2 separate regions of the Homo sapiens genome follow, and region 1 is linked to region 2. The links come from fine-mapping of genetic effects on gene expression. A gene starts in region 2. The other region holds a variant in brackets. All regions are shown on one strand. Distances are from middle to middle. Region 1 has its middle 65 kb from the start of C17orf67. Region 2 holds the start of C17orf67 (chromosome 17 open reading frame 67).

Evidence for each region.
Region 1: its variant is fine-mapped to the expression of C17orf67 in whole blood (INTERVAL, PIP above 0.99).

Annotation. Positions count from the first base shown.
Region 1 is chr17:56,759,969-56,776,875 of GRCh38, forward strand. No RefSeq gene overlaps it. Among named protein-coding and RNA genes, the nearest start is that of C17orf67, 65 kb to the right of the region's middle. The variant C/T (reference allele first, on the strand shown) is at 8,429.
Region 2 is chr17:56,825,455-56,839,971 of GRCh38, forward strand. C17orf67 (chromosome 17 open reading frame 67) reads right to left here and starts at 8,466. Exons shown (of 8, transcript NM_001085430.4): 1 at 8,164-8,466; 2 at 7,444-7,888. It overlaps DGKE (diacylglycerol kinase epsilon), which reads left to right and starts at 8,697. Exons shown (of 12, transcript NM_003647.3): 1 at 8,697-8,806; 2 at 9,324-9,805. The coding sequence starts at 9,342. LOC124904036 (a long non-coding RNA gene) reads right to left here. Exons shown (of 3, transcript XR_007065857.1): 3 at 10,906-13,166. RefSeq lists silencers at 7,694-7,988, 7,962-9,031 and enhancers at 8,356-8,953, 9,422-9,821, 9,553-10,150, 12,041-12,596.

The DNA.
Region 1 (16,907 bases), 64 kb before region 2:
TATAAATGTTTATTGTTAGGGGAAAGTGAAAATTTACAGCAGCAGACAGGATGGGTAACCAGGGAAGGCAAAGAATTGGAAAAGCCTTTTTCAGCATTTTGAAAATAATTAGATGGGCCTGCTCCATGCTAGATTCCCACCATCTCTGGTTCAAGCATCAGCAACATGAATTCTCATGTCTCTGCAGCAGTATAATAATACCTTACGTTTACATAGTTTGTTAGGCTTGCAACATGCTTTCTCATGCATTATCTTATTGGATTTGAGTCTTCCAATATCCCTGAGAGGCAAGGAGTACCAGCATCCAAATTTCCATTTTATAGACAAGGAAATTAAGAGTCAGCATGATGCAAACATGATCAAAATCACAGAGCTGGGAAGCTCTGAGACCAAGCTCTAGTAGAACTGGAACCAAATCCAAACCTTCTGAGACAGGAAGCTTGTCACTGCCCTGCACTGTGATGCCAAGAAAGGACATCTCAGGGTCAAGCGTGGTGGCTCGTGCCTGTAATCCCAGCACTTTGGGAGGCCAAAGCAGGAGGATCACTTGAGCTTAGGAGCATGAGACCTGCCTGGGCAAATAGGAGACTCCATCTTTACAAAAAATATAAAAAACTAGTCAGGCATGGTGGGGCACACCTGTGGTCCCAGCTAATTGGGAGGCTGAGGTGGGAGGGTCATTTGGGTCTGGGAGGTTGAGGTTGCAATGAGCTTCAATAGTGACACTGCACTCCAGCCTGGGTGACAGAGAAAGACCCTGTCGAAGAAGGACAAGGAGAAGAGAAGAGAAGGGAAGGAAGGAAGGAAGGAAGGAAGGAAGGAAGGAAGGAAGGAAGGAAGGAAGGAAAGAAGGAAAGAAAAGAAAAGAGAAAAGAAAGAGAAAGAGAAACAGAAAAGGAGGAGGAGGGAGGGGAGGAAGGAAGAAGGAAGGAAGGAAGGAGAGAGAAACTTATGCATGTGCAAAGGTTATTGGGAACAAGTGAGTACCCTCATACACCTTCCTGGACCTGGAATGTCTTAATCCAGAGATGGCTAGCTGGAGACCCACTAGGTCAATCAGCATGCCTGAGAGTTTTGTTCAATAGTAGCTCAGTGTTCTCAGAAGTGCTCTATGTGTCACCATTCAGACATACCTAAACACAGTGGATGCCACCCCATGTAATCTCTCCACCTCTGTGCTTTTGTCACTCACACAAGGTTCCAGGCCTTAGAAAGGAGCATCTATTGGCTGAGCCTAGAAAGGGCACCTGTGTCTGAGCTGTCAGGAGCAAAGATAAAGAGGTATTTCTTATTCACCTTCCACAATGGGAAGCAAGATCCTCCATCCCAGGCCACCCTGTGTGACTGTGTATTACACAAAGGTAGGCTAAAGAGGATACATAGGGGCTGAAACCCAGCCTACTTCTGCTCTTCGAGTCCTGTGTCCTGGCCCAGGGCTTGGTACATGGAGCTTGTACTGAATTTTAGGCTCCAGCTACCCTCTCAGCTGAGCACTCTTGTGCAGTGTACAATCTGCAGAAGCAAACATGGCAGCCCTGCTTCCTCAGAAGAGCTGGCAACGCTAGATGCCACTCCCACATAGCAACAATTAGAGGGAGCCCAGTCATAGCTGCCCTTCTGGGACAGGGCGCACACTCCCACATCACCACACTCCCCACCATGCCTACCTCACTTGTTTGTGTCACCTGCCAGTCCCCTAAGGCATTTGAGTTTATGACCTGTCTGAAACAATATTTTTTTTTTACATTGGCTTATCCAGGTAATTAGTTTCATGGTCTATTTCTGAATGGCATTTTTCTTTCCCACCCAACCCCCTTTTCCAGCAGTCCTAGTTAATCTATTTATTTTTACTCTACCTCTTTCTAAAAATACATACAATACAACACGATTTTTTAAAAGTCAGACTCCTGGTAATCTCTGGAATGTGGGAAAAGCACTCTTACCACAAAGTTATATTAAGAAGTTTAATTATCAGAAAATTACTGTATAATAAATATATCAAACAGTAAGTATGTACACTGTATATGTACACTGCGAATTCCTGGGCAACCTCAGTCTATAAACCCATTCACCTCACCCACAACCTCAACCGACTCTTTATTCTTTTTCTTTGACTGGCACGGGAGACTTTGAGATACACTTGCTTCTGTATGTATAGCCTCCCACCTTTTCCAGGACCCACTAGGTATGCTGAGTTTTCCAGGCAGTCATGAGAACTTTGTCAGTTCATCCCAAAGTCTATGATCATTTCTCCTTTCTGTTGGTATCAGCCCACTCCCAAATTGTTTGCCATTTACTTTTGTAAGTCCTGTCTTTAAGGAAACCATGGGGCTCCTGGTTGCTATTGTAGGTTGTCTCAGTCAGCCACTACTGTGTAACAAACAACCACAAACATCACAGTGCCGTACAGCAGGAGGTATTTCTCGCTCCTGTGCCTGAGGGTCACATGGGGTGGCTTGGCTTCCGGCCACAGGTCTACAGGTCACCTGGGGCAGCTTTGTTCCAAATACCTTTCATCCTACTGGGCTTATATCGTGTTTTTCTCGTGGCAATGGCAGAAATGCAAGACAGCAAGCCCTACAGCACAAGCACATTTCAACTCCTGCTCATGTCACCTCCATTAACATCTCATTTGCAAAAACAAGTAAAATGGCAAGGCCCAAAGTCAAGGGCAGGGAAGTGTGCGTGCCCCCTGGAGATAGGTTGAAGGGGAAGGAGTGAATATCTACAGACAATGGCCACTGTTTGCCCTTTTGGTCACAAATATTCACTCCTTTCCCACACGCAAAATACACTCACTGCATCCCTAGGACACTCCAAAAATCTTATCCAATGCTGGTATTGAACTGGAAATCCATGTTCCATGCCAGATCTCACTGAGGCTTCTCTTGATTTGATAAGGACCCAAAAAATCAAAAAGACAAGTTGTTTTCCATATGTATCCAGGTGCGGTGGAACAGGTGTAGAATCAGAAAAACACTGCTACTTGGAAAGAAAAGGAATGAGAGTCACTCAGCACTCACTGGGCTGCAGCAATTCTGATGTTCTGCTGGGAATTTTTGGCCAGGTCCTCCTAATCCAGGAGTTGAGAATTTTCCTTGCCTGGCCCCCTGTTCCACACTCAGTCCTTTCTTCTCTGGGTTCTTGGCTCTGCCCTGTGAGAGGTTTTCTCTTCCCATCAGCCTTGATCACTTCAAAAGAGCACATCGGAGAATATGACAATGACCATACTCTTAGTCTGCTTCCTGTCTATAAGAAGGTGGGGCCCCAGAAATTTGTTTTTATCTCCAACAGTTTCATTTTGTTTTAGACAAGCCTGGTGGTAGTTTTGACAGTAAACTCTCTCAAAAATTTTGTGGGTTTTCTGTGCATTAGATTCCATTCAACTCCAGGCACCAAAAGCACAAAATTCACAATTTCTTGGAGACATGCTTCTCTTTGTCTGTAGACTCACACTCTTAATTTTTCTATGAGTTCCTTTGTCTAGCTGAAAGGGTACACTGGACACTTGCACCTTAACAGGAGCTGCATCCTAGCGGATGTCAGAATCAAAAACTTTAAGGAAAGCTAGTGCAATTGAGCAAAAAGTTTTACTGAGGGTTTCCTTGTGGCCAAAGGAAAACATAATGAGATGCACAATTAAAATATGCATTCTAGTTTGTTAATTGAGGCACCTTTTTTCCTAAGGACCATCAAGTACAGTAAGCAAGATAAAATTCAGATGCAGAAAACTTCCTACAGTGAAGACAACGTCCCACAGGCCTGTGAGCTCAATAATTACCTTGGGATTAAAAAGAAGGGCCTTGCCGGGCACAGGGGCTCACGCCTGTAATCCCAACACTTTGGGAGGCCGAGGCAGGCAGAGCACGAGGTCAGGAGATTGAGACTATCCTGGCTAACACAGTGAATCCCATCTCTACTAAAAATACAAAAAATTAGCCAGGCATGGAGTTGGCTGCCTTGCAGTCCCAGCTACTCAGGAGGCTGAGGCAGGAGAATGGCGTGAACCCCAGAGGCGGAGCATGCAGTGAGCCGAGATCGCACCACTGCACTCTAGCCTGGGCAACAGAGCGAGACTCCATCTCACACACAAAAATAAATAAATAAAAATAAAAAAAGAAGGGCCTTTCAGAGTTCATGAGAACCTCAAGCTAAGGCTTTATATCCTAAAGGCAGCATTCTATTTTGTGGGGGAGATTGGAACTTGGGATGAGGGAAAAAGAAAAAGCATTCAAAGCATCTTCCAAGAGAGAAAAACTCAAGATTTACCAAAATGTATTTTATTTTGTTTTTCAAGCTGCAAAAAGCTGAGGAGAATCATAAAATTATTTAGCTTAGTTAACTAGAGAGCAAGGAAGAAGATGTATTATTTCAGTTTCATGACTTGTTAATTTGCAGGTTTTATCATTTGTACTCTAACGACTTGGGGATATTACTTGGTCTGATGGCTGAGGGCTGATGCAGAGATTTGTTTTTTGAGTGTGTTAGGGAGCCAAGATCCTCGGTACTCCTACATCAGGTTTAGGGAATAGTCAACCACTCTGGCCCACGAGCAAGAGGCTATAATGTCTCTTCCAGCCTGGAGGGGCAGGATGCCAGAAAAGGAGAGTTATGACACTAGTAATAGAAAATGTTCGAAAGAGGCTGGGCGTGGCTCACATCTGTGATCCCACCACTTTGGGAGGCAGAGGTGGCAGGACCACTTGAGCCCAGGACTTTGAGACCAGCCTGGGCAACATAGGAAGACCCTGTCTCTACAAAAAATTTAAAATTAGCTGGGTGTGGTGGTGTGTGCCTTTAATCCCAGCTACTGGGGAGGCTGAGGCAGGAGGATAGCTTGAGCCCAGGAGGTTGAAGCTGCAGTGAGCCAGGATCACTGCACTCAAGCCTGGGCAACAAAATGAGATCCAGTCTCAAAAAAAACAAAAAGAAGAAAGAAAAGAAGAAAAGTTAAAAAAGAGAAGCTTCTTGTGTTAAAATTTTCTTTCACCATATGGAATGAGATTTGGTTCCTGGGACAACCCATTCCCAAACTCACTGCCTATTCGGGGCCTTTGTAAAACAGTGCCAACCCCTCCAGTCCAGTAGTTTATATTATTACATTTTGTTCTAGAAGCCAGGCTTCAAAATTCTGGGGGCTGCTTTGTCAGAGGAGGACGGGGAGATGCAGACATCATATTTATGGCATATCCTTTGTTAGGAATTTCAGAGAAGTGAACTTAGTTCGGAGCTACCTTGAGTATGACACTATCCTCCTTAATTTGACTCTGTTGGGCTTGAAGTGGAGGTGGGGGATCAGAGGAAGGAAGACAGGAGAGTTTACTGGATCCAAGAGGTAAAGTTGTAAAACCACCTAGGAGCTGATGTCACCAATACAAGGGGCAGTTTTGTCTCCTCAGCCTGTGTTCTGCCTGGCCCGTGGCTGAGTGCTGAAGCCAAAATTTGGTCAAACTCTTTCCCGGATTTCCAGCTGGGTCTCCCCTGTCCTGGATTACTGGCATTTTCTCTACTTACTAAATGTGCTTTGTGATCTCAGCTAGTGCGAAGCAGAAAACCCACTGCTAAACAGGGAAGCAACTGAAAACCCAAAATGCCAGCATGTCTAGTCAAGTACACGGTAATGCACTACCCCGTTCATTCATTAATCTCTCCATTCACAAATATCTGTTTTCTGTCCACCGCAGTGTGAGGGCTTTCAGGTCTAGAAGTTTCATTCAGAACTGAAAAAGGATAACCAGTGGTGGTCAGAGTGGTTAGAATAAGGGAAAGTGCCTTCAGTCTAGACAATGTGGTTGAGTGTAGCCTGGAGGCAGGGTCTCCATTAGAGATCCCTCTCCAGCTGGGGTATCCTAAAGAGTGGCATGAAGAATGAGATGGAGCCAGTAGGTTAGTAAAACAATTAAAGAACAAAATAAAGAGCATTCTCAGCACTGGCCCCCAAGGAAGGTTACGGATTGGAATAGAGCACAGAGAGCCTCATCTAAACCTCGCCAAAGAGACCAACCCCAGGGCACTGCGGAACTCGGGGCGGCCTCCCTGCTGTGGGGCAGGCATCCTTGGCGGGCAAGGAAATCATCAAAGGCTCCAGCAGCAGGAACGCTCCAGCCATCAGACAGGAGAAGACAGATTTCCTCTAAAATGTGCCTTTAAAGGGAGCTCATTTGCCTTCATGGGCCCCGGGAAAGCCTAAGATAGGTGCCATCCAGGAAACCCAGACTCTTTAAGATCAACACGGTTTAATGCAGCATAAGAGCCTTAGGTCAGACCAAGAAATGACTTCCTGACTGTAAGGGCTTATTGGACCATGAAAGCGGACTCCTAGAGAGACTGTGAAATTGCCTTCTTTCAAAGTTTTTAGATTTTTTTTTTTTTTTTTTTTTTTTGGTGGTGGGGAGGGGAGGCAGTGGATTGAGGGCCAGCCCAGAGGCTGGCAGAGAGGTTTGATGAATTCTCAGGCCACTCCATCTCACCCCAGGAGGCACTTTCCAGCCTGAGAACTGAGGTTTCCCCCTTTCTGGGTAGATCATTGGGTCCAGAAAACCAGCAGGGGCAGCAAATATTAAACTCTGCCTAAATTGCTCTAATGTCCTTGGGGGCAACAGGAGTAGGATTAAGCCTTCATTTTTTACTTTCTTCTTTTACTTTCCAGAGATGGGTCAACTGGGTAGCAGGCTCCAAATCTTCAAACACTAAATAAGAAATGTTGTCAGGCTGGAAACCATTTTAATATTTTAAATACGTGGGGTTTCTCCAGCATTGCAACAGCTGTGGGACGTAAAATAAAATCCATTTCTCTCCGGCCCCTGGGCAGCTCTAAAGTATCAAATGGTCAATCTGGATGATGGGAGGTGGGAGGTAGAAGGTGAGAGGTTGGGGGCTTGGCAGGAAAGGTTGGGGCAGAAAGTGCATTTTCTTCCTGTTGTGGAACATTTTTTTAAAATAATCAGATCCAAACCCTCAGAGTCCTGGGGAGCTATAGATTTTGTATCAGAAGAATGTCTGAGAGTTTTGGAAATGCTCCCAAAATTTGAATACAAACTCCCTGGGTGACCCAGTCAGATGCAAGCAGGCTGGCCTCCGGCAGCTGGACACTGATATTCACTGGTTTGAAGAAGAGAGAAAGGGTGGGAGGATGGGGTAGGATGGAGCCCTTTCATCTGGGCTGTTGGGATTTGTGATCCTCCTCCAGGATAATTCTCAATGGGCTTGTAAGCACAATTGCCACACAGAGCAGATGCCACAGCCTACTTGGTTAGATGAGTCCACGTATTTAATGAATATTTATTGGGCCCTTGCATTGCTTCAGGAAGTGAGATAAGGGGTTGGAGCTGGGCTTCTGATGGTGGCACCAGTGGCCCTGATCTTACCTGATCTTCCCTCCCTGTTATGTCCCTATCCTTGGTGCTTTGGAGAGCACAGAACTATTCATTCATTCATTCATTCAATTATTCAATGCCTTCAGTAAATACTCATTGCACTCTTCCCAAGAGCTAAAAATACAGCAAGGAATAAGACATTTCCCGCCCACTGCCCTGCTCCTATGGGCCTCACATCCTAGTGACAGGACACCCATAAACAATGAACAATGATATATAATAGAGATACATAGATAGAAGAATGCTTATATTTATCAATAGAAAAATGATTAAATTTATGTATGTATCAAATAATTTTAAATGGTGTTGAGTGCTATGAAGAGAACAAACCAGGCTCAGGTAATAGAGAGTGACTGGAGTGGGATCCAATATTAGCTCAGGTGGGTGGGAAAGGCCTCTCTGTGACACGTACGCTGACACCTCCTGCATGTCCAGGAGCCAGCCTGGCTCCTGAAGTCAGGGGAAGAAGCTCCAGACAGAGAACCTGCCAGGCGCCAAGGCCACGGAGCAAAAAGGAGCTTGGCATGTTCAAGGAACAGAAGAAGGACAGGGTGGCTAGGGCATAGGGAAGGGGCAGAGTTGGAAAGAATCATATAGATCCAGCTGGAACTTAACCCAGAATTAGTGCCAGCTAGAAATTTAGAGGTCACTGGATTCAATTCCCAGATTTACACTTGGAAAATCTGAAGCTCACAGAGAAAGTGTGACTCTCTCAGGGTGACCCAACAATCGGGAGCAGAGCCAGGACAGGTCCCTGTGCCTGTGGACACTCCTGTGTAGTGTCACTCCACTGTTCATATCTGTCACATGTGTCAAGGCTCACGTGTGTGCAGCACAGACCCTCCAGCTGATTCCTGCACATTTAGTGACCCCCGGAGACCAGCGTGGCCCCTCATGGAGGAGTCAAGTTTGGAAAAAAAGCAACAGCAGCAGAAGGTGGTAAAAGAGAAGAATGAAGAACCCAGACTTCAGTGTTAGCCAGAGCTAACCTCAAGTTCACACTGCCCCTTATTACATCTATGACCTTGGAGACATCATTTAATCTCTGTGAG[C/T]TTCAATCTCACCATCTGTGAAGTGAGATCACAGTCCCACCCCATAGATGTACTGTGGGGCGGGTATGAGATGGTGCATCGGGAAGACTTAGCACAATATCAGGTGCATATGAAAAGCCCCGTTACAGGGTCATTGTTATATGATTATTATATAGTTCCAGGCCTAAAGGAACTTCCCTCATCATGCTGGAGAAAACATCCATGCACAAACACTGCAAACACTTTACTCTTCTTCATGCACTCGCCAAATATTTATTGAGCACTCGTTCTGTGAAAGGCGCTTGCACTGATCACCAGAAATATCTCAGAGAACAAACACAAATGTAGCCCTACAAATGCAGAGGCAGGCAACTATCCACATAGCCACATTTAAAAAAAAGTGCAAAATTGTCATCAACAAGTACTAGGAGAGGGGGATTTGCAGTACTTTGAGAGACCATCAGGATTTCAGTGACTTGGTCAGGGAGATCAGCACAGGCAGCATTAGGTCTCCCTGAGAAAGTAAAGCTTGGGATGTTACATGATGAGCTGGGGGTAGCCAGGCAATGGATGAGAAGCAAAGGACAGTGTTCCAGGCAGAAGGAATGGCATGTCTTAAGACCCTGGGATGGCAGGCGCACGGTGGGTGTGAATAACTGAGCAGAGGCTGGACCACTAAGATCCTTGTGCCAAGATAGGGAGTTTGAGTTTTATTCTGAGAATAGTAAGAAGCATTAAAGGAGATTTAAGCAGGATGCTTGGAATATAATTTTGCCAGTCTCTCAAATGTATTAATTCATTCAACAAACATTTACTGGGTGCTTTGTACGTACAAAAGACTGTTCAAGACACATGAGGATAGAGAATTTTCCCCAGCCACAAAGTCTCTTACAGAATAGTGGAGCAGATAGACATATTAGCAACTGTTAACTATAGAGGAAAGAGCACTGGACTTGAGTATTAAAGACATAGGTTCAAGTTTCAATTCTACCTTTTATTGAACAACTAGAGTTTCATGAGGACAATGACTGAGTTTAATTATGTCTGGGACCCATCACCTGACATGCAGGAGAACCAGCAAACTTAGAATGATTATGTCACCTTGGGAAATATCAATAAGAGAAGTATCAACAAGGCCTAATTTTTGTTTCATGTTCTATCATCTTTAAAGACCTTTCACATACTGGATCTTATTTTACCCCCACAATATCCCTGTTAATGTTGTGGATATGAGGTGAATTCAGCACTGGCTACATAGTTTGCGGAGCCAAGTTCAAAATGAAATGTGGAGCTCTTTGTCCAATTAATAAGAATTTCAAGACAATGACAGCAGAGCATTAAACTAAGTGCAGGACTGTTGTGGGCAAGGGATCCAGTGTCGCTGCACGAGTTGTGCATACATAAAGCCAGCCCTGAGTAAGTTCTATTTCATTCACTTTACAGATGAGAAAACCAAGGCACATGGTAGAGTGACTCTGTCAGTGTCACTCAGCTCACTGAAAGAGTGAGGCCTCAAAATAAACCCAGGACTTCTGACTTCCTGCTGAAACAGGACTGCCCTGGTTTGTGCCTGAGTTGCAGTGTTCCTGGAAGGGCAGTTTGAAGCATCTGTTTAAAAGGTGATATAGACAAAGAAATTGAAGGGAAATGTTCAGGATGCTGCCCCGTGTGAAACCTTTCAACAATTCCCACTGCTTTAGGACAAAGCCTAAAGGCTTAGACTGATGCACAGAGTCCTTTCCTGGTCTGACCCCTGATTAAAATTTTCCAGCTGCACTGCCCAACTCTGCCCGCTCCTTCAAAATGTGCTTTACAACATACACCTTCTTGCCATTTCCCAGCTGGGCCTTGCTCCTTCTGGCCTCCAAGCCTTTGTTCCTGGCCCTCTCTCTGCCTCAGATGCTGTGTTATGAAGGGGGACTACAAGTAAGCCAGCTGAGGAAGGCAGCGGGATGAGGAAAGGCAGCTGAGGCACAGGGAAATCATGACTAATTTTTCTGCATCTTTGGAACAGTTATACATCCTGCCATCCATCCACCTTTCCATCCACCCATCCACCTATCACCTATTCATTTTTCCATCTACCCTTTCACCTATAGACCCATCCCCCTTCCACTCATCTATCCATCCATCCATCTTTCCTCCATCCATCTATCCATCATCCATCTATTCATACACTCATCCATCCACCCTTTCATCCATCTATTCATCCATCCTTCCATTCATTCATCTATCCATCATCCATCTATCCATCCATCCATCTATCTATTCATCCACCCACCTACCCACCCATTCATCTATTCATTCACCTATCCATCTACCCTTCAATCCATCTATCCACCCATACATGCATACATCCACCCATCCATCCAATCATCTTTCCATCCCTCTATCCCTTCATCCATCCATCCATATTTCCACTCACCCACCCATCCATCTTTCCATTCATTCAACAATTATTCACTTAGTCTCATATGCTATATGCCAGGCACTATGTGAGGCACTGGAGATCCATCAATGAATAAGCTACACTTCCTCCCCACAACAGAGCTCACAGGACAAACAAATATCACCCATAGCTTGAATCCCCAATTTCATAACCTGTATGAATCCAGACTCCCTTCTCACAACTTATGGAAATTCCACTTTCTTCTTCTTGATCCTGTCTCCATTCCTGTGTCTATAGGTGTCATCCCAGGATGGTCTTGAGGCAGCTGGGACACAGTTCTAAGCCCCTTTACCATTTTTCCACAAGAAATACAAATCCAGCAGTGATGTTGTGGGTTTAGTGATTTGACTGTAGATCTGAGAAGCTACTATAAAGGATTATGTTCTACATGCTACAGCCTTCCACCATCTTGCTGCTTTCCCACCAATAATTGTCCAGTTCCCCAAAGCCCAAGCTATTGACATGGAACCCTCCCTGCTGCACAGACTCCTCGAAGTGTAATCTAGTCCTCACTCCCTAATATGACATACTGCCCCTGCCCCAGGACAGTCAGCTGTCCCTCGAATCTGGTAAATATAATGCGCTCCAACTCATGACACATGTAAATAGACTGCTACAATACAGAGAACAGAGAGCTCTACAACAGAGGTAAGTTCAGGATGCACACACAGAGGTGGCAGAGAAAAGCCAAACTAAACTAGTCTTGGGCTTCGAGAGTGGCTTCTGGGAAAGATTCTTAGATAAAGAGAGGAGTGATGAAGAGGATATTTCAAGCACAACAAATAACAAGGACAAAGACATCAGAAAGTTTACTGTGCTTTGCAATGGGGACAAAAGTGGTTCAATAGGACTAGAGGATACAGTACGGGGAGCAGCAGCAGACAACACTGGAGAGGGAGGCAGGAGGGGGTTGCCCATAAAAGGTGGGGCAGTCCATGCTCGGGACTCTGGACTCTAAGCTACAGCAGCAGAACTGCTACTGAGAGCTCCTAAGCCTAGAAGTGGCTTGATTTGAGAATCTTAGGAAGACTGTAGGGGCTGGCATATGGGGTCACTCAACCCTAACCTCAAGGCTGTGGGAGCCTCCAGCTCAAGGCCAAAATCATTACAAGGCAGCAGTCATTTCCCCTTCCAAGGAGTAGGTATGGAACCAGACCAGTCCTGGAGATTAAGGTTTTGTGATAAAGACAGACAGTCAGAGCCCAGAGTGGCCGTCCTTGTGTCCCCGGGGAGGTGGCCTAATGCCCACTCTGTTTTCTAACAACTTTTCTTGGGTATGTATCAGACCAAAAACTAGGTCCGCAAGATTCACGAGACCTGGTCAGAGAATTCATACTCATTTTCAAATGTCTTTGGTCAGCAAAATCTCACATGCACTTTTTCCAGAGTCCTTTCCTCCCCTTCACATCCCCACTCCCACCCAGCTGCTGCTAATTGTACAAGCCACATGCACTACAAGGGAAATGGAATCAGTCTGGTCCTGGTTCATTCACCTTTGAATCCTCAAATAGGCTGTTTTGTAAGAGACCCTAGACTTCCAAGACACCCTCGCAGGATCCCTTAGACAGCTTCTTGTTTTGAATCAGGAAATTTTATTTTGCCAGAACTTGATGTTCAAGCTCAATATTAATGTCAGAACCCACGAAATGTGAGCGGGTTCTAAATTTGGAAAAACATGGTCTCTAATATCTCCCCAAAGCATTCCTTCAGCTATTGACTTTGGAGGCAACTTCTCTATACTATGTAGCTGTCCATTGTTTGCTCTGAATGACACAGAGCCTTCAAACACCGGAGGTGCTTACTCAGCGGATCAATATATCATCACCCCCATCATCTGCATACATTGGTTGAACATCGTAGAGCAAATCCAACATACAGCCTGCTTCCTGTCTTGGCAAAGCCGCCGGATTGAGTCCTCTTTCCATGCAACACTTCTGCCCTGACTTAAACTTTGACTCCAGTGTCCTTTCTGAGCTATTTGCACTGTGAACACAGCGCCTAAAAAGATTTATTAAAAAAAATTAAAAAGCAGGGGGCGAGTGTCATTTTTAGAAAGGCGAGACACCCAACACATCCTACTCTGAGTAGATTTCTTTGACAGCTTGTGATGTTGCCTGAATGGTAAATATATCCTCAGACTCCAAGTAAATAGTCCGTGGCATGTAACTTGGGTATAAAAGAGGAAATTTTACACAACGTGGCCACAGATGCCTTGTCATTTCCCAGAAAATTAGAGGGTCTTCCAGTGACCCTGTAAATTTATCTCACAAGTACTCTTCCACAACTTCAGGAACAGATGGGGCCTGTTTTGATAATGTTTTCCAGTCCCCATAGATAATATGCTGGGGGTGGCGGGAGAGGGGGAGGAGCAAGACAGCCTGCTATTGCTCCCAGAAGCACAGCCTGTGGGCGATCTGTGTCTCTGGTCATCTGAAAGACACTTTGTTAGCACCAAGCATTTCATTGCTGAAGGGAGCAGCAGATAATTTTTTTTATTGGGTAGCCTCTTTACTAAAGGTTGAAGATGTGAAAGGATTGGCTAAAAGACAGGTTCAAACCCAGAGGATGGGCTGGAGTCAAAGAGAGACTGCAAGGCATCTTGAAGGCATCCTTCTGCCTCCAGGAAGGATCAGAGAGGTTTTGAACCCAGAGGAAGATTTCACAGCCTCTCGTGGCAACTTTTTTCAGCATCTCTGCAGAGATGGAGAAATACAAATCAATATCTTCCAGGTAGTAACTATTGGTTCACCTTAACCCAGGCCCTTCCATCAGTAATCATAATAGCTAATATCGACTATTCCCAGGCACTATGCTGAGCACTTGATGTGCTCAAGTTATATTCAGTGTTATATTCAAGACATATTTCAGTGTTAGGTGAAATATATCATCTATTCCTCACCACCCTGGATGCCAGAGGAGGAAAATGAGGATCAAAGAGCTCACAGCCACGTCCAGTGTCAGCAGCTGGTGAGGACAGAGCCGGGAGCAGAGGTATGATCTGTGCAAGTCTCTTGGGCGCTCTATGCCTGGGTTTCCTTACCTGTAAAGTGAATGGACCTAGTAACAATATAATACCAAGGCTTCAAGGGCTTTTTGTTTTTGTTTTTCACTTTTTCACTTTGTCTTTTTTGACCAGGTCATGGTTCTTATTTCCAACTCTCGTCATTCATTTGTCCATTCCACAGTGTTATTGAGTACTTTCTATTTATGTCTCTGCCATTTAGACTTTTAATCAGAGCCTTTATGATTAGCCAATTCATCGCCTCTTCACAGTGGGCTTTACACATCATTATCATGCCTTTAACAAGCATCTCGTTATGCTACTGTCTGTTTTACAAAAACTAACTGATATCTGTTGTTATTTGGCTGTTCACAAAGTCCCTTCACATACACTTACTCATGTCATCCTTATGAAAACACAGCAAAGAAAAGAAAAATAGATATAATATTGTTTATTATTATTATTTTCCTATTTTACCCACAAGTAAGATCCAGGCACATTAAGTGAATGCTGGAGCCAGAATTCAACCCCAGTCTTGTGATACATAAACCGGAACCCTTTCCACTACCACCCACAAAATAAATGTGGACATGGCCTTCCGGGAGCTGCCACAGAACAGCAGCGTTCATAGAAACACACCACAAGCACAGAGGGTGGGGAAGCTTGGTGGTTAAGCACACGGACTCTTAAATTAGACAGCCTTGGCTCTAAAACTTGCCTCTGACACTCACCAGCTGGATGACCTTGGGCAAGTGACTTAACCTCTTGATAGATCAGTTTCCTTATGGCTAAAAAGGGGTTAATAATAGTACCTACCTCAGAGGATGACTGTGGAAATCAATGACTAATATACATAAAGCTCTTAGGACAGTGTTTCAATTTAATTAATATCATCTAATTGTTATTTGTCTTAACATTATTATAGATGCACCTGAAAGCAAACAGAGGCTGTGAAGGGCAGGACAGAGTTGAGCAAAGAGGCCTACCTCCCCCACGGGGAAGAAAACTAACTGAAACTAACAGTCAAGAGATGTGGTTCTATTCCTCATTCTGCCACTTACCATCTGTGCAATCTTGAACCAATCAGTCACTTTACTCCATTTAGGTTTCCTCATCTGTCAGATGAGAAAAGTCAACCAGATTGGGTAGGGGAGGCCTAGCAAATGTCCACTGACTCCCTCATGTCATCCAGTGCCCCTGTAGACTCCGAGGGGTACACCCAGCCACCCCACTTGAATTAAGACTGACTAGTGAAGATACCCACTTAAGACCAGGTTGACCAGCTCATCCTGGTTTGCCTGGGACTTTCCTAGTTCTAAAATGAAAGTTTCATATCCCAGGAACATAATTCCAGAAAAACCAGGATGGTTGATCATCCTAATTAGGTAAAAAATTATATCATCTAGTCCATCATTTTCCCAAACTTTGCTGCTTATGTTACCACCACCATATATTTTGCCATAGCTGTGTAGGGAACTGTAAAATTACTCAAATACATTTACTTCAGAAGAATATATTACATCACTACTGCCATAGTCAGGATAGACCAGGTTAGCTGAGGCAACAGACAGCCCCACAAAGTAGGGGGCTGGAATATGCAGTGAACAGCACTACAATTGTAAAAGCAAACTAGCGTCGCTTGCCATAAAGTGAAGGAAAAATAAAAAATTGATGAAAATAAAACAACTATCACTAGGTAGCAGTGCTGGCTGAGGTTCCGTCTGGCCCCAGGGGCCTGCTCACTGTTTGTTAAAAAGGAGAGATAAGTAAGCATTAAAAAATCCTGGAATTTTCTCCTTTTCAGAGCAGGATTAAAAATGAAGTAAGTTCATCACTCTGTGATTTAATGTAATTTAATGCCATGTCTGTTTGCTACTTAACATTATCTCCCTGCCATCAGCAGAGCACCTCACACACATTTGGGAAGTTGGAATCAGAGAGAGTGTAAAGGTGAGAGGATGAAGGCTCGGTCATCCATTTAAATTTAGGGGCACTCCTCCTTCCAAAGCAGCTCTTCCCACTAATTAATACCTAATCCAGACAGGGCGAGGTGGCTCACGCCTGTAATCTCAGCCACTCGGGAGTCTGAGGCAGGAGGACCCCTTGAGCCCACGGGTTCAAGACTAACCTGGGCAACATATTGAGCTCCCTATCTCTACAAAGAAATTTAAAAATTAGCCAGGCATGGTGGCATGCACCTGTAGTCCTAGCTACTCGGGAGGCTGAGGCAGGTGTGTCACTTGAGCCCAGGAGTTCAAGCCTGCAGTGAGCTATCATCCTGCCACTGCACTTCAGCCTAAGCAATAGAGTGAGACTCTGTCTCCATTTTTATATATATATAATATTATATTATATATTATTATATATAATACTACATGTTATATTAATTTACTTAAATAAATTATATATATTAATATATTATTTATTATATTAGTATACATAACATATATACAAATATGTATAATACACTATATATATATATATACACACACACACACACACACACACACACACACACACCAAGTCAGACAGGACATCAATTGAGAGAAGATGCCCTTACAAACTTGCTTTTTTCAGGAATTTTCGCCTTGCCCCAAAGGCTACCTAGGAAGTACTATAATGGGCTAAAGGACAGAGAGGAGCACCCAAGAAAGGTCCTTGTTCCAACAAGATCACATGGGAAGAATTTCAGCAAAACAAAGCAGCAGCAAAGGACCTATGGCTTTTCGACCTCAACAAGGTTCTGCCAACTCCCCAAAGCAAGCTAAGAATGACTGAAGATACATCATGTGGCTGAAATTTCAAGTCACTACTATTTCTTCCAAAAACATAAAAGTATAAGAAATGGTTTGCCACCTAAGATTGGTTTCCCAAACAAATGCCAAATCATCCTGTAGGAGAGCCTAACCCCGCCATGTGTGGTCTTCCCTTATATGGCCCCTCCAATTCCAGGAACGCCATTCACCTTCTCCATTCCAGCACTGCCCTGCTCACTCGGTTGGGACCTCACCCACTCCATGGCATTAAATACCATCTATAAGCCAATGATT
Region 2 (14,517 bases):
ATCTGTCCCTACACAGGTAAATTTTCCAGATAAAAATTTACTTAGCAAAGAGAGACTACTATTCTTAAAAGCTTTCCCATAAGCCTTAAACTTTTCAAATTCTTTAACTAAATCTGAGAATCTAAGGAAATAACCCTAAACAAAGGAATTATTTATAATAGCAAAATATTAGAAATAGCTACAACAAAAGTAAGGTTATACACACTGTAAGCTATATTCATAGAATGGAGTATAATGTAGCCATTAAATAGGACTTTTTAATAACATATAAAAGTTATTTTGTAATGCTAAATAAGAGCCAGATAGACACTATTATCTACCACATCATCAAAAGTATGCATTAAAAAAAAGTAAATCAGTTTCCATAGAAAATAATGGAATAGACCAAAATGTTCAAACACAGGGTGTCTTTGGAGTGAGAGATGGTGATTCTTTTCTTCCTTTTTACTTTTTCAAATACTCTATAATGGGGATTGGGGGAAACCTGTGAGTGTGTGTGTGTGTGTGCACGCGTGTGTGTGACGGAGTCTCGCTCTGTCACCCAGGCTGGAGTGCAGTGGCACAATCTCGGCTCACTGCAACCTCCACCTCCTGAACTCATGTGATTCTCCTGCCTCAGGCTCCCGAGTAGCTGGGATTACAGGCACGCACCACCACACCCAGCTAATTTTTTATTTTTAGTAGAGATGGGGTTTCACCATGTTGGCCAGGCTTGTCTTCAACTCCTGGCCTCAAGGGATCCACCTGCCTTAGTCTCCCAAAGTGCTGGGATTACAGGTGTGAGCCACCATGCCCAGTCTGTCACTTTTTAAAAGTGTATTATTTTGTTATATCTTCAAATCTAAACTAATTTAAGCGTTCTGCATCAGCTAGGATTCATAAAAGACAATGACACTTTCACACACTGTGCAGGCTACTGAAGCAGAAGTTATGCTTTAGAGATCTCATCTAACCTGAGCCCAAGGAGGTGAACTGACAAGCACAAGGGGACACAGATGTCTGAGGTCCAGGTTCTCTTCCCAGGCCTCACAATCCCATCTAACACTCCTCCCACTTCATTACACTGCCCCTGCGTTTTCACAATACAGACTGTTAAATACTTCAGCCTCCAAACTCAAAAGTGTGGTCCTGGAACTAGCAGCAGCACCTTGGAGCTTCTTAGAAACGCAGGTTATCAGGCCTCTTCCCTGAGAAAGGAAATCAGAATCTGCATTTTAACAAGATTCCCAGGGCAAGGTTCTCAGAGAAGTAGCAGAATAAGAGAAAGTCTTTCTTTAATGGTTTAATTTCAGTTGAAGCTGACTTAGTTGACCAAGTTAAAACAGTGATCTCAGTCCCACCATTGGCTGTGTGACATGAAGCATGTTTCTCAACCTCTCTGTGCCTGGGTTTTTTCATCTGTAAAATGGGGATCATAAACCTACATGGTGCATAGCAAGTGCAGAGATGGAAGCAGGGTGCAGTACCTGTAAACAGTGCCTGTAAATAATGCTTCTTGTTGGTTATGTTTTGACAGGCCTGGCGCTCTGCACAAGCTGTGCAATGCTTGGCACATAGTTAAGTGCTCAGCCAGTACGTGTTTAATAAATAACCAACAAGAGCATAGGTTATCATTTATCAATTTTTGACTTGAACTGTCCCATTCTTTAGTATATAACATTCTCAAAACTGCCAGTTTTCTGCATCCCAACATTCAAAACTGTGCCAGCTCTCACCAGATGGTGAGAAAGTGCGGAGGCTGAAGGTCATAGATAAGCTTAACTCATACTGTAAATCATTCCTACCAGAATTTTTTTTGAGACAAGTAGATTTTATTTACAAATTTCTCCCTCTAAGTGATCATAAAATTAACCAATCCAGGATGCCCACTGCTGATTGAGTACAGGCAGAATGGTGGGGTGTTCTCTGGTGTCTGTTGTGGCTGTGGAATCCATGGTTACTAGGCAGAGCCCTGTGGCAGCACCTTGGAGCTTCTTAGAAATGCAGGTTATCAGGCCTCTTCCCTGAGAAAGGAAATCAGAATCTGCATTTTAACAAGATTCCCAGGGCAAGGTTCTCAGAGAAGTAGCAGAGTATCTTTAATGGTTTAATTTCAGTTGAAGCTGACTTGATTGACCAAGTTAAAACAGTGATCTCAGTCCCACTATTGGCCGTGTGGGACTGCAGTGTCATGGAGGGGCTGCGATCCTCTGTGGAGGTGGACCCTGGACTGAACCCTGGGAAGCTGGATGAGGAGATGGTGGGGCTGCCGCCCCATGACCCAAGTCCTCAAGTCACTTTCCACAGCCTCCATGGGAAGACACTGGTGTGTCCACACCTCACGGGCTTAGTGATGGGTCTTAGTTTTATTCAGACTTAGTCAATGTATTAGGAATGGACTCCGTGTAACGTGGGCATGGAGTATTTAACACACCTCAGACTGTGGTTTTCGAACCGCCTCCATTAGCATCATTTAAAAATGTGGATGCTGGGCCGGTCGCAGTGGCTCACACCTGTAATCCCAGCACTTTGGGAGGCCAAGGCAGGCGGATCGCGAGATCAGGAGTTCGAGATCATCCCAGCCAATATGGTGAAACCCCATCTCTACTAAAAATACAAAAATTAGCTCAGTGTACCCGCACTCCAGCCTGGCGACAGAACAAGACTCAGTCTCAAAAAAAAAAAAAAAAAGCCAGGCACGGCGGCTCACGCTTGTAATCCCAGCACTTTGGGAGGACAGGGTGGGTGGATCATCTGAGGTTGGGAGTTCTAGACCAGCCTGACCAACATGGAGAAATCCCATCTCTGCTAAAAATACAAAATTAGCTGGACGTGGTGGCGCATGCGTGTAATCCCAGCTACTCGGGAGGCTGAGGTAGGAGAATCGCTTGAACCCAGGAGGCGGAGGTTGTGGTGAGCCGGGATCACACCATTGCACTCCAGCCTGGGCAACAAGAGCAAAACTCTTGTCTCAAAAAAAAAAATGTGGATTCTGTGGTCCTGACCAGGTCTCTGGAATCAGAATATGAAATGCAACTAGGAATCCGCCTTCTTAACAAGTTCCCTAGGTAATTCTTTATTCAAAACTTTTTTGATGTTGTTTATATTTTGAAATCTGTCACACATACAGAAGAGTTTATAAACCATATATACATAGTTTCTAACATAAAAATTAAACAAACACCTGTGTACCCACTACCCAGGTTAACATATTGAAGATTGGGAGCTCTGGTGTGCCCAGTTGTTTGGTACACCTTCTCCCCCATCACAGGGAACTACTATCCTAACTTTCGTGGCTTTCATTTCCTTAGTCAACCTGTTAGGAATCGACTCCATGTAACATACGAAAAGCAGCTTGCAGAAACACTGGATTCACACATGGAGGAGAAATGCCAACTCACAGGCAAGCACAGTGATGACAAAAAAAAAAAAAAAAACACTGCAGAGATTGAGGGATCCTTAGAGGATGTCGGTGTATGAAAAAGTATTTAAACATCCCCAGTTTTGTAGATGCTTATAAGGTGAACAGCACCAACGCAATGCTGATGCAGAAATTCACATCCCAGCGGGGCACAGCTGCTCACACCTGTAATTTCAACACTTTGGGAGGCCGAGGTGGACAGATCACCTGAGTCAGGAGTTCAAGACCAGCCTGGCCAGCAGTGAAACCCATCTCTACTAACAATACAAAAATTAGCCAGGCATGGTGGCGGGCGCCTGTAATCCCAGCTACTCAGCAGGCTGGAGCAGGAGAATTGCTTGAACCTGGGAGGTGGAGATTGCAGTGAGCTGAGATCGCACCATTACACTCCAGCCTGGGCAACAAGAGCAAGACTCCATTGCAAAAAAATAAAATAAAATAAAAATCACATCCCTGGTTCAAGAACTCAAAGAAGAGAGGTTTAAAGAAGAAAAGAAAAAAGAAGAGAGATCCAGACTCTCTAAGCAACAAGAAGGGCTGGCAGAGACGTTATCTATGCTGGAGTCCCTGGAAGAGGCCATGGGAGTCACCCCATCACAAGGAGCTTTTCCACACCAGCCAGGCAGCCAAGAGCCAAGCCCTGCTGCTCCCTTCCCCAGGAGGGCTTGGGTCTTAGGGCAGCGCTGTTCTCTCCCCTCCACTCAGGCCTCCAGAGCTGCCAGGCCAGGTTCTCCCATGTTGACTCCATCCGAGGGTCCCTGAGGCCAGTGGATCTAGGGGAGCCCCTTTTTGTGTTGAAGTTTCCACCTTCCCCTTCTGACACTGCAGCCAGCTCCTTCATGGTTGATTCCTCCAAATCTAAAGAATACAGGAGACCCTGGAGCACATCAGCAAAGTCTGGATTCTCTCTCATTAGCAGCAAAAGAAATGCCATACTTTAGAGCCTCATCTTTTGCTCAAACTGAAACATCATCAAACTGCATTTCTCAAGACAATGCTCTGTAAATATTATTTATGTATTAATCTCCTAGGTGAACAATTTCTATTTTATCCTCTACAAAATTATTGCACTTTGAAAACAGATTTCATTTATCAATACTTTCGGTACTCAACTGCAATATTTTTTCTAGAGTTATAGTCCCAACAATTTTAAGTCATAAGTTAAAGCACCATTTTTTGGCTTGAGTATGTATTTGTTGAAAAATTTGGCCGGGCGTGGTGGCTCACACCTGTAATCCCAGCACTTTGGGAGGCTGAGGCAGGCGGATCATGAGGTCAGGAGATCAGGACCATCCTCGCTAACATGGTGAAATCCCGTCTCCACTAAAAACACAAAAAAAATTAGCCGGGCGTGGTGGCGGGCACCTGTAGTCCCAGCTACTCGGGAGGCTGAGGCAAGAGAATGGCGTGAACCTGGGAGGCGGAGCTTGCAGTGAGCCAAGATCGCACCACTGCACTCCAGTCTGGGTGACAGAGCGAGACTCCGTCTCAAAAAAAAAAAAAGAAAAAGAAAAAATTTATGCAAAGGGAGATTTATTTTGGGATAAAGTAAAAGGGAATGTTTAAAGAGAAATTTCTATAATATTTAGATTCAAATAGTGGATATTTTTCAAAAAACAAAATTAATAAATTACATGGAGATGGTTTTATTTCACTACAAGAGTGATGTAGGGAGAGATTTCTAAGAAGAAATCCCCTTGGACAACATTGGGGAACCCCACATCACTTTTCCCCATCTCCTCTCAATTAGCCACCACGCCTGGCTAATTTTTTTTTTGTATTTATACATTTTTATTTTGGTATGTAAGAGAGATACCTGACAAAAGTAACCTGAATTAAACTTTCCATTTAAACTTCCTCTGTGTCTTTATGTTGAGTCAGGCACTGTATTTAGATAACTGTAAATTATTTATCAAGTATGAATGGAGGTCACTCACCCTAATAGTTAAACAGACTGGATTTACATAAATGTGGGGCAATCTTGGTAGGGGTGGTCAGCAAGGCCTCTGTCGGGAGGGAGCACCTGGGCAACGAAGACATAGGGAAGAACTTTGTAGGAAAAGGGGGTAGAACTGACAATAGCCCTGAAGGGGGCATGAGTCTGGTGGGCGTGAGGACCATGCAGAGGCCAGAGTGGCCTGAACTCAGTGAACGATGGCCAGAGTGGTAAATGAGTGAAGGGTACCAGGGGTCTGAGAATGGAGGGGTTTTCCCCACAGTAAGAGTTTCATTTCAATATAAAAGTTCAGAGGCAGCCTGCAGGGAACATAGTAAAGCAGGAAGACCAGGTGGGAGGCTGTGACAGTCATTCAAGGGTGAGAATGGTGACAGCTGGACCAGGGGAGTAGTGGAGGGGGGGATGGAGAGATGGGCTCGAGTCCAGGACCTGTGCTGCTGCCAGAGACCGAGAGACTCACTGAGGCCTGCGGGTGCCAGAGAAAAGGGGAGTCAGGATGAGGACAAGGAGTCCACTGTGAGCATCTCCCTGAGGGGTGGTGTCCTTTGCTGGAACAGAGAGGGATGGCAAAGGACGGGCATCTGGATGATAAATTGGAATAAATGTTTGGGAGGAGACTTGGGAACAGGACCTTTTGACACTAGAGTAGAAATACCAAGTGCTCAGATGGACATAGGTGGAGAACTTGGAGGAGCAATCACAGCATCAGCAAGGAACGTGGAGGATCATTGGGGCGTGAAGTTACTATTACACAGAAGTCCAAGTCCTGGGCAGATTCCAAGGGGTGAATGAAATGAGTCTGCTAGTGACCAGAACCCTCCTCAGGTCTCCCAGTAGCCACAATACCACAAAAAGCCTCAAGAGTGACCTCCCCAAGTCTGTTCCCATTAGGGGACTTGAGTTGTGCAGAATCCGTATAAGACAGCCTCCACCAAACACGTGTCTATGCAGGTCCACGTGCCATGTACATACGTACGACTGATGAAGATCCCCTCCTTGACCAAGCTCTAGCCAGGCTTCCCTGAGCCCCCTTTTCAACTAGGCCTCCACCTTGGCCTATGAAATCTGCAGACTTCAGCAAAAAGGATCGGGTCCATCCTTCCCCCTATATCAAAACGCTTAAACACACAGTTTCTTTTTCTTTCTTTTTTTTTGAGACGGAGTTTCGCTCTGTCGCCCCGGCTGGAATACATTGGTGCGATCTCAGCTCACTGCAACCTCCGCCTCCTGGGTTAAGCAATTCTCTGCCTCAAGCCTCCCAAGTAGCTGGGACTACAGGCACTCACCACGATGCCCAGCTAATTTTTTGTATTTTTAGTAGAGACGGGGTTTCACCATCTTGACCAGGCTGATCTTGAATTCCTGACCCCGTGATGCACCTGCCTCGGCCTCCCAAAGTGTTGGGGTTACAGGCGTGAGCCACAGCGCCCGGCCTAAACACATAGTTTTTAACTGCTCAAAGCTGCATCCATAGGATGACCCCAGACCCCCTAAAGTATCTTCCTGGGAAAGCTGCCAAAAGAACTCACTGTTGGCTATTGCCAACACCTTACAAGCAGCCCCTGATGTCCCTTTCTTAAAGAGTTAACAACAACAACAAAAAACTAAACAATTGTGAATCCTTCCTCTGTCTCTCTGGGATGTAATGTCTCCTACACATCAGGAGTATCCTTCTCAAGAACCTGAAAGCCATTCCTCCAACATGCAATCACCAGGAAGCAAAGGGCCTATCTCCCAGTTACTGTGGGAGGATAGGACCCTGACTCCCATAACAGCCATCTAACAGGCACTGTCGCCTAACCTTACTTACACTGACCCACCCTTCACAAGTTTCACTTTCCTGACTACTGAGTTCCTGCTCATCCCCTTCACATTCCCTCCTCCTCCCTCTTAAACACCTAGTCACTTCTGCACAAAGTTCAGTTCCGTTCACGAGGTACCTTCTTCCCTATTACAATAGTATATTATTAAAATCTGCTTTACCACTTTTACTAGTGTCTAGCTTTATCTTCTACAGTTAATACAAATATACGCACATACACATGCATATATATGCACACATAATAATATATACATACACACATACACGTATATATACATCTATATGTGTATTCTTAATGAATGTTATGTCTTCTCTAATCGTTTGGAAGATATTATCAAGTATTTCTTTGCAGTTTTCCTATGATCTCTGCGTTTCTTTTCTGTTCCTTTGGTCCCTTGCTTCGGTGTGTGTTTTCTTTCCATCTTTTATGCTAGAGGAAGTCCGCAAGCAACAAGTGGTCCTCGGCTCCCACTCCTATGTATGTATGTAGTAGGAAGGAAGCCGCTGAGTGCAGCTGTGCGCGCCGGGGCGGTGCCTGTGCCTCTCTGGATTCCGTGTTTCTTCGGGGGTGCTGAGCAGCGGTGCTTCCGCGTCCGCGTTCTCCGGGTAGCTGATGTGCTGCAGGCTGCAGCCCGCGTGGTCGCGGCTCAGGTCCGTGTTGGGCTGGTAGGACTCCAGCGGGGAGCGAGCATTCCTCCGGAACCTGGGGCTGGACGACAGCAGCAGGAGGCGTGCTCCCATCTCCGGTAGTCCCCGGCTCCCGCTGCTCCCCTTTCTCCCCGGCCTCGGGCGCTGGCGGGCGCGGGCGAGGGGGTAGCGCAGGGGAGGCCCGCCCGCCACGGCAGGGGGCGGAAACCGCGGCCGGGCTCGGGGTCAGCGGCGACGAGCGGGCGGCTGCCCCGCTCGCCCTCGGCCTCCGCGCCCGCCCGCCGCTCCGCAGCGGAGGAGCCCTCAGGTTTGCGTTACTGCGGCCGCCACACCTACCTCAGCCCGCCGCGGCCAGGTCGGGCGGTGCCGCGCAGGCCGCCTCCCCCCCTCGCTTCCCAGTCGGCTTACGCATCCCCGGCGGCGGCGGCGCCGGCATCGGCTAGAGGTTCGGCTCAAGTCGGGGGCACTCGTGTCTGCGCCGAGCGGCGGGCGTGAGCGCGGCCCCTGGGCCCCGCGCGGCGCGGTGCTGCGAGGAGGATCCTCGTGGCCTTGCCCCGCCGGCGGCTTTCCAGAATTTTCTACGATTACGAAGTTTTGGCATTCAACCCTCCATCCTCTCAAACGCCCCACTGTTACTCCGCCCCCTTCCCCTAGGCCCCGCCCCCAGCCGCAGTGCCCTGCCTCTTCCATCCGTCTCCAGCCTCCTCCACGGCCCCGCCCCCTCAGGCCGGTCCGTCTCCCCTCCCACCTCACACCTCCGCCCCGCCCGTCAGCCCTGGCTCCGCCCAGCCACGGGGCTCGCCGCCACAGGCCCCGCCTCCAGCTCGCGGCCCCGCGCGCCGGATCGGCGTGCGTGCGGCTGGAGCCTTAAGCGTTTCCCCCGCCCGGCTTCATCCCTGCTGGCGGCCCAGCGTCGTTCTCCTCCTGCGCGAGGCGGCCAAGGCCTGCTGGCCCGGAGCCGCGCCTCCACCCGCGCGAGGTAGGGCTTCGAGGACCGGCGCGGCGCAGGTCTCCGGAGGCCTCCCGAGAGGGGCTAGGGTCGCCGGGCCGCGCGTGGGAGCGGGTGGGGCCCGGGAGGAGACGGCGCCCCGGAGGGGAGTGCGAGGCCTGGGCCGACGGTTACGGGCGCCGACCGGCGTTGCCTGGCCTGAACGCCCGGCCTTTCGGTGGAGGGCAGCTTGCCCCTGTATGTTGCGCCCTTCCGTGGGTCAGACCGGCGGCAAGGTGAGGCGGCGGCGGCAGCAGCAGCCGCCTTGGGCTCCTGGACGCGCTCCCGAGGTGGGGCGGGTTGGGGAGTGGGGATTGGAGCGTGATGGCTGGACGTCGCCTTCTCGGCGCGGCAGGTCCCGGGAGACGGGGGGACGAGGCGCAGTCCCGCCCTCGGGAGAGCGGAGCCACCTTCACTGAGGGCGCCCGGTTTGGCCCCGGAAAGGCAGGAAGGGGGCGGGGAAGGGATGGCGAGCTCGGGGTGCACCGCCTGTTTCTTTTCTGGTTAGGTATCGTCCTTGGAGAAGATGGAAGCGGAGAGGCGGCCGGCGCCGGGCTCGCCCTCCGAGGGCCTGTTTGCGGACGGGCACCTGATCTTGTGGACGCTGTGCTCGGTCCTGCTGCCGGTGTTCATCACCTTCTGGTGTAGCCTCCAGCGGTCGCGCCGGCAGCTGCACCGCAGGGACATCTTCCGCAAGAGCAAGCACGGGTGGCGCGACACGGACCTGTTCAGCCAGCCCACCTACTGCTGCGTGTGCGCGCAGCACATTCTGCAGGGCGCCTTCTGCGACTGCTGCGGGCTCCGCGTGGACGAGGGCTGCCTCAGGAAGGCCGACAAGCGCTTCCAGTGCAAGGAGATTATGCTCAAGAATGACACCAAGGTCCTGGACGCCATGCCCCACCACTGGATCCGGGGCAACGTGCCCCTGTGCAGTTACTGTATGGTTTGCAAGCAGCAGTGTGGCTGTCAACCCAAGCTTTGCGATTACAGGTATGGTCTTCGTGGACACTCACTGTCCCAGAATGCGCCGTGGGAATCAGGATTTCATAGAGTGGTGTAGAGGCCTGCTTTAATCTCTGCTGATGACCTAAACTCATTTTGAGGAAACAAGCTAATAAATAAACATCCCTGAGTTTGTGCAAGCGTGGCAGCTTTGCAGTAGTCATTTGCTGAGACGATGCATCCAGCCTCCACTCCTCAGCCAGCCTGCCCTTTTGGGTAATAAAACTTGGCTCCTAACGTTAATACAGAGGTTTCTAAGTGGTGCCTGCTTCATGGCCACTGTATATTTTAGCTTTTGTTCCTATCGATTATCTCCTTATTTTAAATAAGGAAAAATGAAATATGGACAAATTAACTTTTCCCTTCAGCCGCAAAACTGATGGGTCACAGGTTTTGTACTATGAATGTGCAGTGAAAACAAGTGTCATTCCAAGGCAGCACTTTTATGTCTTTTGCTAATATAGCTGTTGGTACCATAGCGAAATATACTCAAAAAGAACACTGAAAGGAATATTCCTTTTGACGCTTGGTCTTTCAGGACATGTAGAATCTTAGATAAGTGACCTTGATTAAGCCAAGAATATTTTAATGTCTTTTATATACACACTGGACAACACATTTTTGTCCTTAAATATTGTTTGAAAATAGGTGAAGATGTCCTTTGCTGATGTTGGAAATTGGTAAAGGAGAATGCTGCTTTGCAAATGATCTATTCTAACTCAGTTCACAGTTGAGAAAATTAAAGCCCGTTAGGTCCACTCTGGTAAAATAGGACTGGCCTCCAGGATTTCCAGCTCTGGACTAACACTTAGCCTCCTTTGAGCCTTAAGTCTGGACATCTTCATTGTAATGGGTTTTATTTCTGACAAGTAGAAAGGCGCATAAACATGCTTAAGAAATGAAATAGGCAGTAAATAGGAAGCTGCTTTTTAATTTTTTTAATTTTTTTTGCAGAAATTCTTTCATTAGCATGAACGCTATTATAATGTCAATACCTGTTTTTAAGTCTTATTTTAAATAATTTTACACATTATCAAAGAGGCTTAAGAATAAATGTTCAAAATAATGTATTCTAGACAACTACAAAGTTTTGTAACCATGCATTTTTATTTGGTATCTTTAAAAATTAAATGCTGTCCTTCTGGCATCAGTGAGAGCCAAGTTAGCAGGGACTTTAAATAAATTTCATAATGAATTGAGTATTGTTCTATTTCCTTCCCTTCTCTGGTGTAGCCTCCAGCAGTCTGTGTCTGTGCAGAATTATATTAAAAATGGTTTCCATAAATAACCGTATTTCAAATACTCTTGAACACATAATCATGCTTCTGATCCTCCACCCAAATGATCTTTCTAAAAATGCAAATCTGATCAAGTCCCTGCTCTGCTTAAAATCCTTTAAATTGCTCCCCATCGGGTAAGCTGACTGTTTTACAGTGTAAACCCCTAAGTGCTTTTTCACAGGGTACATAAGGTCCTAGTACTTTCTGGCCTCTGTCCTTTTAGTTTTATCTACCACCACCTGCATTAAACTTTATGCACCAGCAACACTAAGCTTCTTGTAATTTCCTTAAAACGTCAGGCATTTTCTGACATTTCTGCCCCTTTGCTCAAAGCTTTCCTCTCAGTATTCTTCTGGCTAGCTTCTAGGCACCCTTAAAGACCCATCCCATGTCCTTGTCCTTTCCTTCAGGAACTCTTACCTGATCTACTCAGCTTCCCTCCTCCCCCAGTTTTTCCTTTTTGGTGATAACGTAATATCCTATATCTCAGTGGTTCTCAAAGTAAGGTCCCTAGACCAGCAGCATCAGCATCTCTTCAAAATCTGTTAGAAATGCAAATTCTAGGGTTGCTAGATTTAGCAGATAAAAATAAAATATTGCAGAATTTGGAACATAAAAAGTTTCTCTGAAATTCAAATTCAACTAGGCATTGCCGTTTTTTTGTTTTTTTTTTCTGGCAACCCTAGCCCAACCCCAGACCTACTAAATCAGAAACTTGGGCTGGACATCAGCAGTCTTGGTTTTAACAGGCCCTACAGGTCCTTCTAAAGATGGAGAACCACTGCTATATTTACATATCTTTAAAAACATGCACCTCCGTCTCTTAATTTTGTATCCTCCCATTGAGCACACTGAATCTGTGTGATAATAAATCTTCTTTTCTTCATTAGTGCATTTTTACAGAGTAACCCCTTACCCCATGATAGAAATTGTCTCTGTGTAATTTAGGAGATGTTTATTATTCCCAAGAGAAGAGACCACAGTGTCCTGAAGTTGTACATATTCTACAGTGTTCTGAACTGATTTATGTTGGCCAATAATTGTATACAGGATTACAGTCTCCTGTGACCTTCTGTAGGAATGAGATATTTTGGAAGGAGAAACAAAATAAATAGCTACTTAGAACCTTTAAACACAGACCAGACAGTCCTCTGGATTTTATCTAGCCCTGAGGAGAGCTCCTTCCCTGTCTGCATCTCATTCTTAGGGAAGTGAGTGAACTCTGCAGACAAGTTACATTTCAAAGGACACTAATGAGAGATGATGACTGAGTTTAAAGCCTGCAGAATAAGTGAGAAAGGCCCTTTAATTTATACTCATTCGATCATTATACTTATTGAGCATCTATTTTTGTTCTAGACACTGCTAGAGTCTACTTTGTCTGTAGATTTTTTCTTTTTGTGTGCTCCTGTTTCTACCCCCAACCACTACATCTTCTTTTTCTTCTTCTTATCTCTCCTCTGACTAAAATAGGGAATTAGGTTATATTTTTACATATTCAATATATTTATTAAATGAACCTTTGTTTCTTGTAGTGTTCTATCTCATTAAGAGAAAAAGAACTTAAAGTGCTTTTTAATTTATTGGACTTTTTATTCATTACATCTACCCCACGCCTCACACACAATTACTGTGATTAGTAAAACAAAGCTGCTGACTCTCAGAAGGCAGTTAGATTGGCCTCAGTGTAACTAGTCTCAGCTTTGATCATAAATTTTGTTTCTATATTCTATTGGTGTGTGTTTATTCATTTCATTAATTATCTGAAACAGTGAAAGATACCAAATCATCTTCTAGAGCAGAGGTGGGCAAACTTACTGTAAAGAGCCAAAAGAATTTTCGGCTTTCCCAACCATTTCGTCTGTCATAATTACTTAACTCTGCCATAGTTGCAGTGCAAAACCAGCCATGGACAATACATAAATGAATGAGCTTACCTGTGTTCCAGTAAAACTTCATTCACAAAATCAGATGGCAGACATATTTGCAGTTTGCAGAACCCTGTTCTAGTGAATCTTATAAATGACCATCTCAACTTTATGTATAATTCAGCTGCCTCCTTCAGCACACTAAAAAAGAGAGCTATTGTGACCAGGTAATTTTTTAGAGAAAACAAGCCTTGTTAAACCTTTTTTTTTTCTATAAATACTACTGCACAAGAACGGCATATAAATTCATGAGGCATTCCATATTTTCATATGAAGGAACTTTCTAGAGTAATGTTCTATATCTTGATAAGGGTTTTAGTTACGTATGTTCATTTATCAAAACTCAGGAAGTATATACGTACATTTCATTGTATGTAAATTTTACATGAAAAGGAAAAAACATCATGAATTCTAGGTAGTGATAAGCCTATTTGCTGATGTATTCAGGAAGTATTCTGATGTCTTCAGTTTACTTGGAAATGTACTAAAAATAAGATGAATTAATGGATAGAAATGTGACAAAGCAATTACAGTAAGATGTTAATGGTAGAATGTAGGTGGTAGGCATACCTGTAAAAAATATTTTTAAGTAAAATATTTTAAAAAGCAAGTAAACTATTCTTGCTTTTAGAATATATTTGCTAAAATATTGAAGGGTGAGATCTCATACTGTCTGCAGTTTACTTTCAAATGATCAAAAAAATATGAATTTATATGGAAAGAGAATATTGTGGGAGAAAATGTCATTAAGAATCAGCGTGAAGGGTGGGCTTAGGGTATTCATTTTGCTATCCTTTTGACTTCTCTGAAAGTTTGGAATTTTTCAAAATAAAAAGAAAAAAGATGATAAGCTGTTACCCAATGACATGATGCTAAAGCTGAAATACCAAGACATTTTAGTAATGTCTTATCTTCCCAGTGAGTTTGAAATCTAGGTTGTTAAATACCAATTACAACATAGGTAAAGACAATAGGATTCAGGTTTGAATATGGTATTTCTAAAGAAGAATGTAATACTGAGTAATTAGTAAGCATTTTATTTTATTTTGTTTTTTGAGACAGGGTCTTACTCTATATTGCCTAGGCTGGAAGACGGTGGCAAGATTATGGCTTACTGCAGCCTTAGCCTCCCAGGTTCAAGCAATCCTCCCACCTCAGCCTTCCAAGTAGCTGGGACTACAGACATGCACCACCATGCCTGATATTTTTTTTTTCTTTTTTGTAGAGATAGGAGTATCACCATATTGCCCAGGCTGGTCTCAAATTCCTGGGCTCAAGCAATCCTCGCATCTTGGCCTCCCAAAGTGCTGGGATTGCAGGCGTAAGCCACCATGCCTGGCCCTAGTAAGCATTTTAGCTGTACCTTTATAGAGCAAAGGCTCATAATAGCTATTATCTTGGTTAAAATAATCTTTTCTGGGCTGAGCGCAGTGGCTCATGCCTGTAATCCCAGCACTTTGGGAGGCCAAGGCGGGCAGAGTTCGAGACCAGC